2 linked regions of the Homo sapiens genome follow. The protein of the gene in region 1 purifies or fractionates together with the protein of each later gene. This does not show direct contact. Each region holds a gene or a part of one and is shown in the gene's direction. Other genes may lie near its edges.

Region 1 (6,126 bases):
GGGAGGACCATGGCTGTCCTGGTTTACGCTTGTTGTTCAAGCTTATTTATCAACAGCGTTTCCCCCCATTATCAAAAGTGTCCTGGCTTGGAAGATAAATGACATGGCTTACCAGCTATAGGGACCAGGGGCTGCTGCCCACCCTCTGGTGACAGGAAAAGCCTTGGTTTTTCCAGGGAAAATGAAGAGAACAGGTCAGCCTAGGGCTCTCAGGTGTAGCTTCTCAGCCTATGTCCTCTTGTTTGCCCCATCCAGACTGCTGCCCCCACTGCTGCAGATTGTGTGCAAGGGCCTGGAGGACCCCTCGCAAGTTGTACGCAATGCTGCGCTGTTTGCCCTGGGCCAGTTCTCAGAAAACCTACAGGTGAACCAGGCTGAATGTGGGAGCCACCACTTGAATGTCCCCTTCCCCTCATCTTTCATCTCTTCAAGCATCCCTGCTGCCATCAGCACTCTTGTGTGTGCCCGGCAGGTGAACCTGACTCAGGCCCTGCTTGCTCCCTCCCCCAGCCCCATATCAGCAGCTATTCAAGGGAGGTAATGCCACTGCTCCTCGCCTACTTGAAGTCGGTGCCTCTTGGACACACACACCACCTAGCCAAGGCCTGCTATGCCCTGGAGAATTTTGTGGAGAACCTAGGTAGTGATGGCAGTGGGGAGCTTGGGGAAGGGGGATGAGGCGGCGGCTTTGGCTGAATGTACAGGATGTGCATCTCCCTGCATTGCTGCCTGTGGTAGGGGAAAGGGTGTGATGGTGCCAAAAAAAGGTTTCCGCCTGGAGGGAGGTGGGCGTGCAGGTAGCAGACCTGGGTTGGTTGGTAGAGGAGCATCCTTTCCCACAGGGCCCAAGGTGCAGCCCTACCTTCCGGAGCTTATGGAATGCATGCTGCAGCTTCTGAGGAACCCCAGCAGTCCCCGGGCCAAGGAGCTGGCTGTGAGCGCCCTGGGAGCCATTGGTGAGGAGAGAGGCAGGAGGCAGGGATGTGGGGTTCACCCAAAGGCCCTGTGGCTGGTGGTCCCTGCCCTCTCCAGCTCTGATTCTGTCCTTCCATCCTGCAGCTACGGCTGCCCAGGCCTCGCTGCTGCCCTACTTCCCTGCCATCATGGAGCACCTGCGGGAATTCCTGTTAACAGGCCGTGAGGACCTTCAGCCTGTGCAGATCCAGAGCCTGGGTGAGTGAGAGGTTCCCAGGTGGGGCTCCCAGTGCCAGCAAAGGGCTGGTGCTCACCTGGTGTTGACAGATTGCCCCCACAGGAGCACGGATGTCTTCCTTCTCATCAAAGGGGTGTGCTTCATGCTGTACCAAGGGGTGGGGCGGGATTTCTGAATCCCTCCCAGCCACCACCTTTGGTCCCGTAGCCCACCTCCACCTCCTGGTGCTAATGGAGCCCTTGCCCCCACAGAGACACTGGGGGTGCTGGCACGAGCAGTGGGGGAGCCCATGAGGCCGCTGGCTGAGGAATGCTGCCAGCTGGGTCTGGGCCTCTGCGACCAGGTAGACGACCCTGACTTGCGGCGCTGCACGTGAGTGACCCCTCACCCTGCCTCTGCCCTTGTCCCCTCCCCTCCTGTCTTCCCACTGGACCCACTGGAATCCCCACCCCAGACTCCAGTCGTCTGGTTTGGACCATAGCCAGGTGTTCCCGGGCTCCCCCATCCTGCCTGGTGGTAGCAGGCAGGACCTTACAGCTTCTTCTGCCTGCTTTGACCAGGTACAGCCTATTTGCAGCCTTATCGGGTCTGATGGGTGAGGGCCTGGCGCCCCACTTGGAACAGATCACCACGCTCATGCTGCTGTCACTGCGTTCCACCGAGGGCATTGTGGTGAGCAAAGGGTGGGTGGGCTGGGCCAGGCCTGCCCTGCAATGGGATTTATCTCCTGGGCCCAGCTGAGCCAAAGTCCTTGCCGTGCCTCCGCTCCAGCCTCAGTATGACGGGAGCAGCTCCTTCCTTCTGTTTGACGATGAGAGTGATGGGGAAGAAGAGGAGGAGCTCATGGATGAGGATGTGGAAGAAGAGGATGACTCAGAGATCTCAGGGTGCGGAGGGGTGCTCTTCTGATCAGGAATCTAGACTTTGGCTTTAGACAAGGGCCTAGTGCTGGATCTGCTCCTCTTGGTGCCTGATCACCACTGCCTCCCCTTCTTACTCTAGGTACAGCGTGGAGAATGCCTTCTTCGATGAGAAGGAAGACACCTGTGCTGCCGTGGGGGAGATCTCTGTGAACACCAGGTGAGCATTCGCCCTTCCCTGGCACTGAAAACCCTGCCTGGGGGCCCCTTACCCACGGCTGTGTCTCTCTCTGTAGTGTGGCCTTCCTTCCATACATGGAAAGTGTCTTTGAAGAAGTATTTAAACTGCTGGAGGTGAGCGGGCCGGCGGGTGGAGTGGGTGGGGTTCTCAGGCTGGGGGCCCTGTGTTCACGGTGCACATAGCAGACATATCCCGCCCCTCCTCATCCTGCAGTGCCCTCACCTGAATGTGCGGAAGGCAGCCCATGAGGCTCTGGGTCAGTTTTGCTGTGCACTGCACAAGGCCTGTCAAAGCTGCCCCTCGGAACCCAACACTGCTGGTGAGGAGAGGCTGGGCCAGGCTGGGGGTTCTTGGGGAGGGGCAGGGCCTGACTGGTGCTTCAGCCAATAATGTCCCCAGCTTTGCAGGCTGCCCTGGCCCGAGTCGTGCCATCCTACATGCAGGCAGTGAACAGGGAGCGGGAACGCCAGGTGGTGATGGCCGTGCTGGAGGCCCTGACAGGGGTGCTCCGCAGCTGTGGGACCCTCACACTGAAGCCCCCTGGGCGCCTCGCTGAGCTCTGTGGCGTGCTCAAGGCTGTGCTGCAGAGGAAGGTGAGCAGGGCAGGTGGGCTTCGGGAAGGAGAGGTGCTGGGCCTCGGTTGGGGACTGGCTACAAGTCCACCCCCTACCCCCATGAAAAGAGAAGGGGCGTGAAAGCTCCGCTAAGTTGAGCTACTTCTTGTAGACAGCCTGTCAGGATACTGACGAGGAGGAGGAAGAGGAAGATGATGATCAGGTGAGAGCCAGGGATAAAAACGGGGACCAGGCGGTCCAGGCAGTCTCCACAGGGACAGGGGTGGACAGTGTATTTGGGCTTGGCCTGGGGCAGCCAGGGCCACTAAAAGAGACTGGTAATGGCCAGAGGGATACAACCCTGATCCCACTAAGCCAGTGGGAGTTCAGGGAAGGAGAGCAGTGTGGACTGGGGTGTGCTTGGAGTGATAGGTAGGAGCAGAAGAGCCAGGGGAAGAAGCTGGGTCATGGAAACACCCAGCTTGAGAGGGGCCAGCCCTATCAACCAAGGGCAGCCCCAGGGACCCCTGCAGCTGGTGGCAGAGCGTGGGAGGGAGGTGTACAGTCACTGAGCTGGCCCTGGTGCTCCAGCCCCTGACCTGGCTCCACAGGCTGAATACGACGCCATGTTGCTGGAGCACGCTGGAGAGGCCATCCCTGCCCTGGCAGCCGCGGCTGGGGGAGACTCCTTTGCCCCATTCTTTGCCGGTTTCCTGCCATTATTGGTGTGCAAGACAGTGAGTGTCCATCTTCTGGCTTCAAGCCCTAGTCCCCTCGTGCACCCGGTGCCCACCACAGCCTTTATCCTTGGCCCAGGCTGATCTGTACTCCTTCCTGTTCTCCCCCATCAGAAACAGGGCTGCACAGTGGCAGAGAAGTCCTTTGCAGTGGGGACCTTGGCAGAGACTATTCAGGGCCTGGGTGCTGCCTCAGCCCAGTTTGTGTCTCGGCTGCTCCCTGTGCTGTTGAGCACCGCCCAAGAGGCAGACCCCGAGGTGCGAAGCAATGCCATCTTCGGGATGGGCGTGCTGGCAGAGCATGGGGGCCACCCTGCCCAGGAGTATCCTTGGCTCGCAGGACGGGAGGGACTGGAGGTTGGGGGAGTGTCCCCAGGGCTTGCAGGTGGGCAAGGTCTACCTGAGCGTGTGGCCATTCCTTGACTGTGGACCAGACACTTCCCCAAGCTGCTGGGGCTCCTTTTTCCCCTCCTGGCGCGGGAGCGACATGATCGTGTCCGTGACAACATCTGTGGGGCACTTGCCCGCCTGTTGATGGCCAGTCCCACCAGGAAACCAGAGCCCCAGGTGAGGGAGGGAGACATCAGGCAGGGCTTGGAAGCTGAGGAGGGAGGGTGGTGGAGGGCAGGGCAGGTTGGCCTGAGACATTTGTGTGCCCAGGTGCTGGCTGCCCTACTGCATGCCCTGCCACTGAAGGAGGACTTGGAGGAGTGGGTCACCATTGGGCGCCTCTTCAGCTTCCTGTACCAGAGCAGCCCTGACCAGGTAACCTTGCTGCTGGCAGCCCTCAGAGGGGAACGTGCCGCTCCACTCAGTGATAGGCACTGTCTGCTGATGAGGCTCGGGAGCTCCAGGCTGTCAGTTGCACCTGATGCAAGGTGACAGTTTCAGCTGTTCTTTTGGTACTCCCTGCACCATTTCTTATTTGTCTGCAAGGATTGGCAGCCAGTCCTGTGATGGGACAGGAGGGACTTCCTTTCTCCACGTAGCATTTTTCCTGAGGAAGCTCCATTTCTACCCTTTGGTCTGAGCCAGAAGTTGCAGTTTTCCTAGGCTGGTTTCCTAAACCGGGGCCCTTTCAAACTGTGCTCTGTGGAGCCCAGGGTACCTCTGGGCCACCACACCATACATTTCAATCAGATCAGCTCTGCTCTCTGAAGAGATTTTGCCTGTACCAAGTAGCTAGGTTTGGAGTCATGTCAGAGTGTTTGTGTCACCCTTGTCTTATACCTTTAGAGACTGTTGTGTAGGTGAAGCTCCTGAGTGTCTGGGTTTCTTTAGGTCTTGAGGCTATGACTTTAATCATCTTGTCCCACATCCCCCATTCCCTCCAAAAAAAATCATTAGCACCAAGTTTCATTGGTTCTTCTCATGTTCATAGTTGTCTTGGATGCCTGTGAATCAGTACCAGGTGCAACCACCCCCCTGATAAGAGATTCTGCCACTCCTTGGTCCTGACCACCCTCCTAGACCTGGGGTCTGGGGCTGCTGCCCTGAGTCAGCCACTCTTTCCTCACAGGTTATAGATGTGGCTCCCGAGCTTCTGCGTATCTGCAGCCTCATTCTGGCTGACAACAAGATCCCACCAGGTGAGGGTAGGAGTCATAGGCAGGGGCTTGCGGGAGGCTGGGAGTGGCAGGGCTCAGAGAGCCTGGGGCAGCGAGGCTTTAGGAGCCCCGACCTTTCTCCCTCCCTCTCCACCCAGACACCAAGGCCGCACTGTTGCTGCTCCTGACGTTCCTGGCCAAACAGCACACCGACAGCTTTCAAGCAGCTCTGGGCTCACTGCCTGTTGACAAGGCTCAGGAGCTCCAGGCTGTACTGGGCCTCTCCTAGACTGCAGGCTGCAGCCAGTCCAGAGAGAATAGAGCCTGCCCAGGCCTTAAGACCACCTCTCAGCCCAGTTCAGTTCTGCCTTACCAAAGATTCTGAGACTCATACCCATTTGGAGCCAGCCCCACTTGCTGCCTTACAGGGCTGTCCCTGAGGCTGGATCTGTTACAAATGAGTCATGACATCATACTGTAATAAAAGCAGCTTGTTTTCTGCTTGAACAATAGCTCTGAGAGCAAGAAGGCTGGAAATGCACATTCAGAAATGAGGTAAGCAGGACCCAGTGAGGCACGACGTGGTTTACTAGAAGTGGCCGGTTTCCTGGCAGCTTTGTAAATGGACTCTAACCTCAGTGGAATCTGGGCCCCGGCTGGATCAGGAGGCGACCATATGGCTTTTCTTGTTTCACGTGAAGAATCTGTTGCGCTGAGAGCACTGGTCAAGAGGCGAGGAGAGGGCAGGTCGGGGGAGTCCCTGTACGGGCCTCTGGTCTCTGTGTCCCTGCCCCACATACACACACACACATGCATACACTCACCCAGGAGCAGGTAGAAGACCCGGGCAGCCATCCTGCGGGGGCTGAGAGGTGACACCAGGCTGCTGAAGTCGGGCTCCCTGTTAGCCTGCAGCTCCAGTGCCACTGCCCTATAGGGATCAAGAACCATTAGCAGAGGCTTCAGCCCGGGTCCACCCCATCAAGGTGCCACCTCCCTGGTACCTGTGCACTGCTTCCAGTGAGAGCAGCTCG
Region 2 (7,028 bases), on another chromosome or scaffold:
TCCACTTATAATAACCCTATTGCAGGTTTGACAATTTAAGTCACTTCCAAACTAAACCTTTTAAAAACCTTTTCTCTTAGGATTTGGTGCTATGGAGAAATTTTTGGTAGAATATAAGAGTGCAGTGGAGAAGAAACTGGCAGAGTACAAATGTAACACCAACACAGCAATTGAACTAAAATTAGGTATGTATGCCATTTCTAAGTGATGTTATGTACATACTGTGTGTGTATATATAATCTTTCATTTTAAATTTGAAGTAAAATTTTATGTAAGAGCAGTTATTTATGCAAATGTATGGTTTTCTGCATTTATTGAACATATTCAGATTTTATTCAGTTTTGATTTATGTCATGGAAGGTGTAGATGTTTGAAAGGTGACAGAATTTTATATAAAAAGGAAAGACGGTGGGGCAAAAAGTAATAAGTATATATAGTTTTAGCCTCTTAAAAATATTTTTTACTTTTTTGCCTGTAAGAATAATAAACAATAGCAAATATTGGTGAGGATGTGGAAAAAAACACTTGTATATTGCTGGTGGGAATGTAAAGTGATATAACTATTTTGGAAAACAGTTTGGCAATTTTCTTTTCTGTCTTTTTTATTTTCTTTCCTTCCTTCTCTTCTTTCATTTCCTCCCCTCACCCCTTTTTTTTCTTTCTTTCTTTTTTAAAGAGACAAGGAAGGTCTCACTCTATCACCCAGGCTGTAGTGCCACGGCATGGTCATAGCTCACTGCTGCCTCCAACCCCTGGGCTCAGGCAGTCCTTCTGCCTCAGCCTGCCAGGTAGCTAGGAGACCACAGGTGTGCACCACCCAAGCCTGGCTAATTTTTATAAAAAATTTTTTTTTTGAGACGGAGTTTCACTCTTGTTGCCCAGGCTGGAGTGCAATGGCGTGATCCTGGCTCACTGCAACCTCCACCTCCTGGGTTCTAGTGATTCTCCTGCCTCAGCCTCCCGTGTAGCTGGGATTACAGGCATGCGCCACCACGCCCGGCTAATTTTTTGTATTTTTAGTAGAGACGGTTTCTCCATGTTGGTCAGGCTGGTCTTGAACTCCCAACCTCTGGTGATCTGCCCACCTTGGCCTCCCAAAGTGCTGGGATTACAGGCATGAGCCACCACGCCTGGCTTATAAAAATTTTTTCATAGAGATGGACCCTACGTGTCTATGTGTCCAGGCTCATCTTGAACTCTTGTCTTCAAGCAGTCCCCTGGCTTGGCCTCCCAAAGTGTTGGGATTATAACTGTGAGCCACAGCGCCCCTCCTGGTTTGACAGTTTCTTAAGAAGTTAAACATAAATGAATTATATGACCCAGGAGTTATACTGCCAGGTATCTGTCTACTCAAGAGAAATGAAAATGTATGTTCACGCAAAAACTTGTACATGAATGTTCATAGCTGCGTTATTCACAGTAGCCAAAAAAATGTAAGAAACCCAGATATATATCAGCTGGTAAATGAATAAAGTATAGTATAGCTATACCACGGAATACTATTTGACAATAAGAAGGAATGAAATTCTGATACCTATTGCAGTAAACCTTAAAAAGATTGTGCTAAGTGAAAGAAACTAAACAAAAACACCATATATTGTGTAATTCCATTTGTATGAAATGTTCAGAAAAGACACATCCATAGAGACAGAAAGTAGTGGTTGCACAGTGGAGCGCAGAGTAACTACAAATGGGCCTGACATTTCTTTTGGGAATTATGGAAATGTTTGAAAGTTAGATTGTGGCACAGCTCTGAATTTGCTAAAATTTTACACTTAGAACAAGTGAAAAATAATATATGCTCATGATTCCTGGTTGCATTACTTTCCATGCCTGAGTTTCCTCATTGTTAATAGTACTTCACAGTGGTTACAAAGATTAAATATGGAGTTAAATATCAGTAAAGTGTTTAAACTCCTTGACATGCAGAAAATACTTGGTAAGGGCTGAGTGGAGTGACTGGATGTGGTTGCTGAGATCTGCGTATTTTTTTTACATGTCCCCTCATTTTTCAATTACTTCATTCTTTGATAGTTTGATTACCTTGGAACATCCTGTCATCTGTTGTCTCTGCCCCAGCCTTGGAATCAGCCATTTCTCCAAGGATCCCTGGTTTCTTTTAGTAGGAAATGTTATTTTATTTTATTTTAGAGACAGAGTCTCACTCAGTCGCCCAGGTAGAGTGCAGTGGTGCGATCTTGGTTCACTGCAACCTCTGCCTCCCAGATTCAAGTAATTCTTGTGCCTCAGCCTCCGTAGTAGCTGGGATTACAGGCATGTGCCACCAGCCCTGGGTAATTTTTTTGTGTTTTTAGTAGAGATAGGGTTTCGCCATGTTGGTCAGTCTGTCTCAAACTGACCAAGTGATCCACCTGCCTCGGTCTCCCAAAGTGCTGGAATTACAGGCATGAGCTACTGCACCCAGCCAGGAAATGGTTTTTTATTTTGAGATGGAGTCTCACTCTTGTCACCCAGGCTGGAGTGCAATGACGCGGTCTTGGCTCACTGAAACCTCTGCCTCCTGGGTTTAAGTGATTCTGGTGCCTCAGCCTCCCAAGTAGCTGGGATTACAGGCACCCGTCACCACACCCAGCTGATTTTTGTATTTTTAGTAGAGACGGTTTCATCATGTTGGCCAGACTGGTCTCGAACTCCTGACCTCAGGTGATCTGCCCACCTTGGCCTCCCAAAGTGCTGGGATTACAGGCATGAGCCACCACCCCCAGCCACAGGAAATGATATTTTAAAGCCAAGATTCGGGTGCTAAAGCCAAGATCTAGGTGCTAGGTGAACACATTGCTGTTAGTATTGCTCTAGCATTAATGAGAGCAGGCTTAGTAGATAGAACTTTATTACTTACTGTTCAGTCCCTGCCACCTGCAAGGTGACTACAGTCTCATTTCTTTGACCAAAATTAGCTTTCTGTGTTCTAGCACTTTATATAAATGGAATTATACCATATATACTGGCTTTGTGACTGGCTTGTTTCATTAAGCATAATTTTTATGAGGTACATCATATGTTGTCTGTACCAGTAGTTCATTCCCCATTTTTTTTGTTGTTGTTGTTTGAGACAGAGTCTCACGCTGTTGCTTGGGCTGGAGTGCAGTGGCATGATTGCGGCTCAATGCGATCTCCACCTTCTGGGTTCAAGCGATTCTCCTGCCTCAGCCTCTGGAGTAGCTGGGATTACAGGCGCCTGCCACCACGCCTGGCTAATTCTTTTGTATTTTTAGGAGAGACGGAGTTTCACTATGTTGGCCAGGCTGGTCTCGAACTCCTGGCTTCATGATCGCCTGCCTTGGCCTCCCAAAGTGCTGGGATTACAGGCGTGAGCCACCGTGCCCGGCAGTTCATTCCTTTTTATTGCTGAATACTGTTCTGTTGTTGGATACATCATTATTCGCCAGTTAATAGATATTTGAGTTGTTTCTAGTTTTTGGCTGTTATTGTATGAGTTTTTTTGTGGACATATGATTTTATTTTGGATAAATTCCTAGCTGTGGATTTGCTGGGTCAATAGGGTATTTGTATGTTTAACTTTATGGGATACTTGGCCAGACTGACTTCCAAAGTACTTTTATACTCACATCAACAGTGTATTAGAATTTTCGTTATTCCATATCCTCACCAACATTTTATGTTGTCAGTTTTTAAAGTTTTAGGCATTCTACTGGGTTTATAGTAGTATTTCTTTGTTAATAGTACTTCATAGTGGTTGTAAAGATTAAATAGGTTTTAATTGTCTTTTCCCTCATAACTAATGCTATTAAGGATTGTTTTTTTAATGTGGTTATCGACTATCTCCTTTTGGACTCATGTATTCACATCTTTTGCCCATTTTAAAATTAGGTTATTTGTCTTTTTGTTATTAGTTGTAGGTGTTATTTACCTACATATTCTGGATGAGTCCTTTATGCAGATTACATGTTTTGTGCACATTTTTCTCTCAGTTTGTGGTTTGCCTGTTCATATTCTCAACTTTTTTTGTATAACTGGAAGTTTTTAGTTTTAATCATGTCCAGTTTATTAATTTTAAAAATTTCTATTAGTGTTTTCTGGTTCATGCCTAATATCTTTGTCTACCCCAAGGAGATCATGAAGCTCTCCTAATGTTTTCTTCTGGAAGGTTTTTAGTTTTAGCTTATTAAAATTATGTCCATGATCCATCTCATGTTATTTTTCATGTCCAATATGAGGAAAGGGATTAAGGTTTGTTGTTCCATGTGGATATCCACTTGTTTCAGTATAATTTGTGTGAATGCCTTGGTGCGTTTTTAACAAAAAAATATTGAACTTACACGTGTGGATCTACATCTGGACTTTTCTCATTCATTGTCTGTTTTTCTGTCAATATCGTACTGTCTGGATTAGTGTAACTTTCTATTGATTCCTGGTAGTGTGAGTCCCACATCTTTATTTTTTAAAGATTGTTTCGATTATTCTTGACCTTATTTCTGTATACATTTTGGAATCAGGTGGTTAATTTCTATTTAAAAAGTTCTGACTAATCTTAAGATTACATTGAATCTAAAATTGAATGTGGGGAGAATTGCTATCTTAATAACATTGAGCCTTCCAGTATATGAACATGATGTATTTCTGTATTCTAGAAATGTTTCAGGTTTTCAGTCTTGCATGTATTTTGTTAAATTTATCTGAGTAAATCTACATCTTTTGATTTTTGATGCTCTTAAAAATGGTATACTTTTTTATTTATTTATTTTTGTATGTGTGACATGTTCTCACTTTGTCACCGAGGATGGAGTGCAGTAGCGTGATCTCCACTCACTGCAACCTCTGCCTCCGAGCTCAAGTGATCCTCTTACCACAGCTTCCCGAGTAGCTGGGACTCCGCATACACCACCATGCCTGGCTAATTTTTGTATTTTTTGTAGAGACAGGGTTTCGCCTTGTTACCCAGACTGGTCTTGAACTTCTGGGTTCGAGTGATCTGCCCACCTAGGCCTCCCAAAGTGCTATTACAGATGTGAGCCACTGTGCCTGACCTAAAAATGATATACTTTAAACATTTTCTCTTCCAATTGCTTGTTTTATGTGTGTGCATGTGCATATGCATGGACACACAATGGCACAGTTTGTGTAATTGTTTTGTATTCTGCAACCTTGCTAAATTCACTTATTATTGTAGTTTTTTGTATTCTGGGCTTTTTCTGAGAGAGTGGCTCACTCCATTGCCAAGGCTGGAGTAGAGTGGCGTGATTGTGGCTCACTATAGCCTTGACTTCCCAGGCTCAAGCGAACCTCCCACCTCAGCCTCCTGAATAGCTGGGACTATAGGTGCGTGCCACCATGCTTGGCAAAATTTTTTTTTTTTTCTAGGGACAGGGCCTCACTATATTGCCCATGCTGGTCTTGAACTCCTGGGCTCAAGCAATCCTCTTGCCTCAGCTTCCCAAAGTGCTAGGGTTGCAGACATAAGCCACCACACCCAGCTATAGGATTTTTTTTTTTAGATGTAGATTATTTCAGATTTCCTGCACACAAACATTACCTGTTAATGAAGAAAGTCACAGTTTTTCTTTGCCTTATACAGTTGTCCATTGGTATCTTCAGGGATTTGGTTCCACGATCCCCCGTGAATACCAAAATCTGCCGATGATCCGGTCCATTATACAAAATGCCATAGTGTGGCTGGGCATGGTGGCTCACATCTGTAATCTAGCACTTTGGGAGGTTGAGGCAGGCAGATTGCTTGAGCCCAGGAGTTTGAGACCAGCCTGAGCAACATGGCAGAACCCCATCTCTACAAAAAATACAAGAATTAGCCAGGCATGATGGTGTGCATCTGTAGTTGCTACTCAGGAGGCTGAGGTGGGAGGATCTGCCTGAGCCCAAGAGTTCTAGGCTGCAGTGAGCTGTGATTGTGCCACTGCACTCCAGTGTGAGTGACAGAGTGAGACCCTGTCTTGATAGATAGATAGCCATATAGCCGGGCATGGTGGCTCACGCCTGTAATACCAGCACTTTGGGAGGCTGAGGCAAGAGTTCGAGAAGACAAGCCTGGTCAACATGGTGAAATTCCGTCTCTACTAAAAATACAAAAATTAGCTGGGCGTGATGGCACACACCTGTAATCCCAGCTACTTGGGAGGCTGAGGCAGGAGAATTGCTTGAGCCCAGGAGGTGGAGGTTGCAGTGAGCCGAGATTGTGCCACTGCACTCCAGCCTGGGCGACAAAGCAAGACTGTGTCTCGGGGGGGAAAAACAGCCATATAGTACAGTCAGCTCTTTGTATCTGCAGATTCTGTGTTTGAGGATTCAGCCAATCTCATGTTGATCCGTAATTGGTTGAATCAGTGGATGTGGAACCTGCATATGTGGAGAGCCACTTGTGTTTCATTTTCTTGCCTTACTGCACTGGCCAGAACCTCTATTACAATGTCAAATGGAAGTGATAGAGTAGACATCCTTGCCTTATTCCCAATTGAAGAAGGAAAATTTTGAGCCTTTCACCATTCACTATGATGTTAGCTGTAGGTTTTTCATATGTGCCCTTTATCAGGTTGAGGAAGTTTCCTTCTATTCCTAGTTTGGTGAGAGTTTTTATTATGAAAGTGTTACCTTCTAATGCTTTTTCTTTATCAAGATAATCATAAGATTTTTCTCCTTTAATTCTGATAATGTGGTGAATTACATTGATGAGGTTTTAAGTGTTAAATTAGCCTTGCATGCCAGTATATTATCCTTTTTCTGCTTTGCTAGATTTGACTTGGCAATGTTTTGTTAAGACTCTTTGTTCATGACAGGTAATGGTTTCTTTTTTCATACGTCTTTGCTTGATTTTGGTATCAAGGTTTCCTGGCCTCATAAAATGAGTTGGGAACTGTTTCTTCTCTATCTTCTGGAAGAATTTGTATAAGACTGCATTATTCCTTTAAATGTTCAGTAGCATTCACCAGTGAAGTTTTATGTGCCTTGAGTTTTCTTTGTTGGAAGGTTTTTAACTATACATCTAATAAATAGATTTAATACTGTTCTGATCTTCTGTTTCTTCTTGTGTCAGT

What was found. The genes of interacting proteins can lie anywhere in the genome.
Region 2: the proteins of IPO4 (region 1) and HAT1 purify together in Homo sapiens (affinity purification with mass spectrometry; 2 studies listed by BioGRID, with this or other methods). This does not show direct contact.

The regions. Positions count from the first base shown.
Region 1 is NC_000014.9:24,179,697-24,185,822, reverse strand, and holds the end of IPO4 (importin-4), read left to right. Parts: intron 1-255; coding exon 256-364; intron 365-510; coding exon 511-640; intron 641-842; coding exon 843-956; intron 957-1,059; coding exon 1,060-1,173; intron 1,174-1,404; coding exon 1,405-1,525; intron 1,526-1,713; coding exon 1,714-1,825; intron 1,826-1,924; coding exon 1,925-2,040; intron 2,041-2,155; coding exon 2,156-2,233; intron 2,234-2,309; coding exon 2,310-2,367; intron 2,368-2,467; coding exon 2,468-2,573; intron 2,574-2,653; coding exon 2,654-2,847; intron 2,848-2,980; coding exon 2,981-3,031; intron 3,032-3,399; exon of another isoform or gene 3,400-3,419; coding exon 3,420-3,545; intron 3,546-3,659; coding exon 3,660-3,868; intron 3,869-3,979; coding exon 3,980-4,112; intron 4,113-4,205; coding exon 4,206-4,310; intron 4,311-4,899; exon of another isoform or gene 4,900-5,064; coding exon 5,065-5,134; exon of another isoform or gene 5,135-5,250; coding exon 5,251-5,381; 3' UTR 5,382-5,554; downstream 5,555-6,126. Other genes in the region: meiotic recombination protein REC8 homolog, read right to left, coding at 5,555-6,023, 6,097-6,126. UniProt on the Homo sapiens protein: Nuclear transport receptor that mediates nuclear import of proteins, such as histones, RPS3A, TNP2 and VDR. Serves as receptor for nuclear localization signals (NLS) in cargo substrates.
Region 2 is NC_000002.12:171,925,457-171,932,484, forward strand, and holds part of HAT1 (histone acetyltransferase type B catalytic subunit), read left to right. Parts: intron 1-80; coding exon 81-185; intron 186-7,028. UniProt on the Homo sapiens protein: Histone acetyltransferase that plays a role in different biological processes including cell cycle progression, glucose metabolism, histone production or DNA damage repair. Coordinates histone production and acetylation via H4 promoter binding.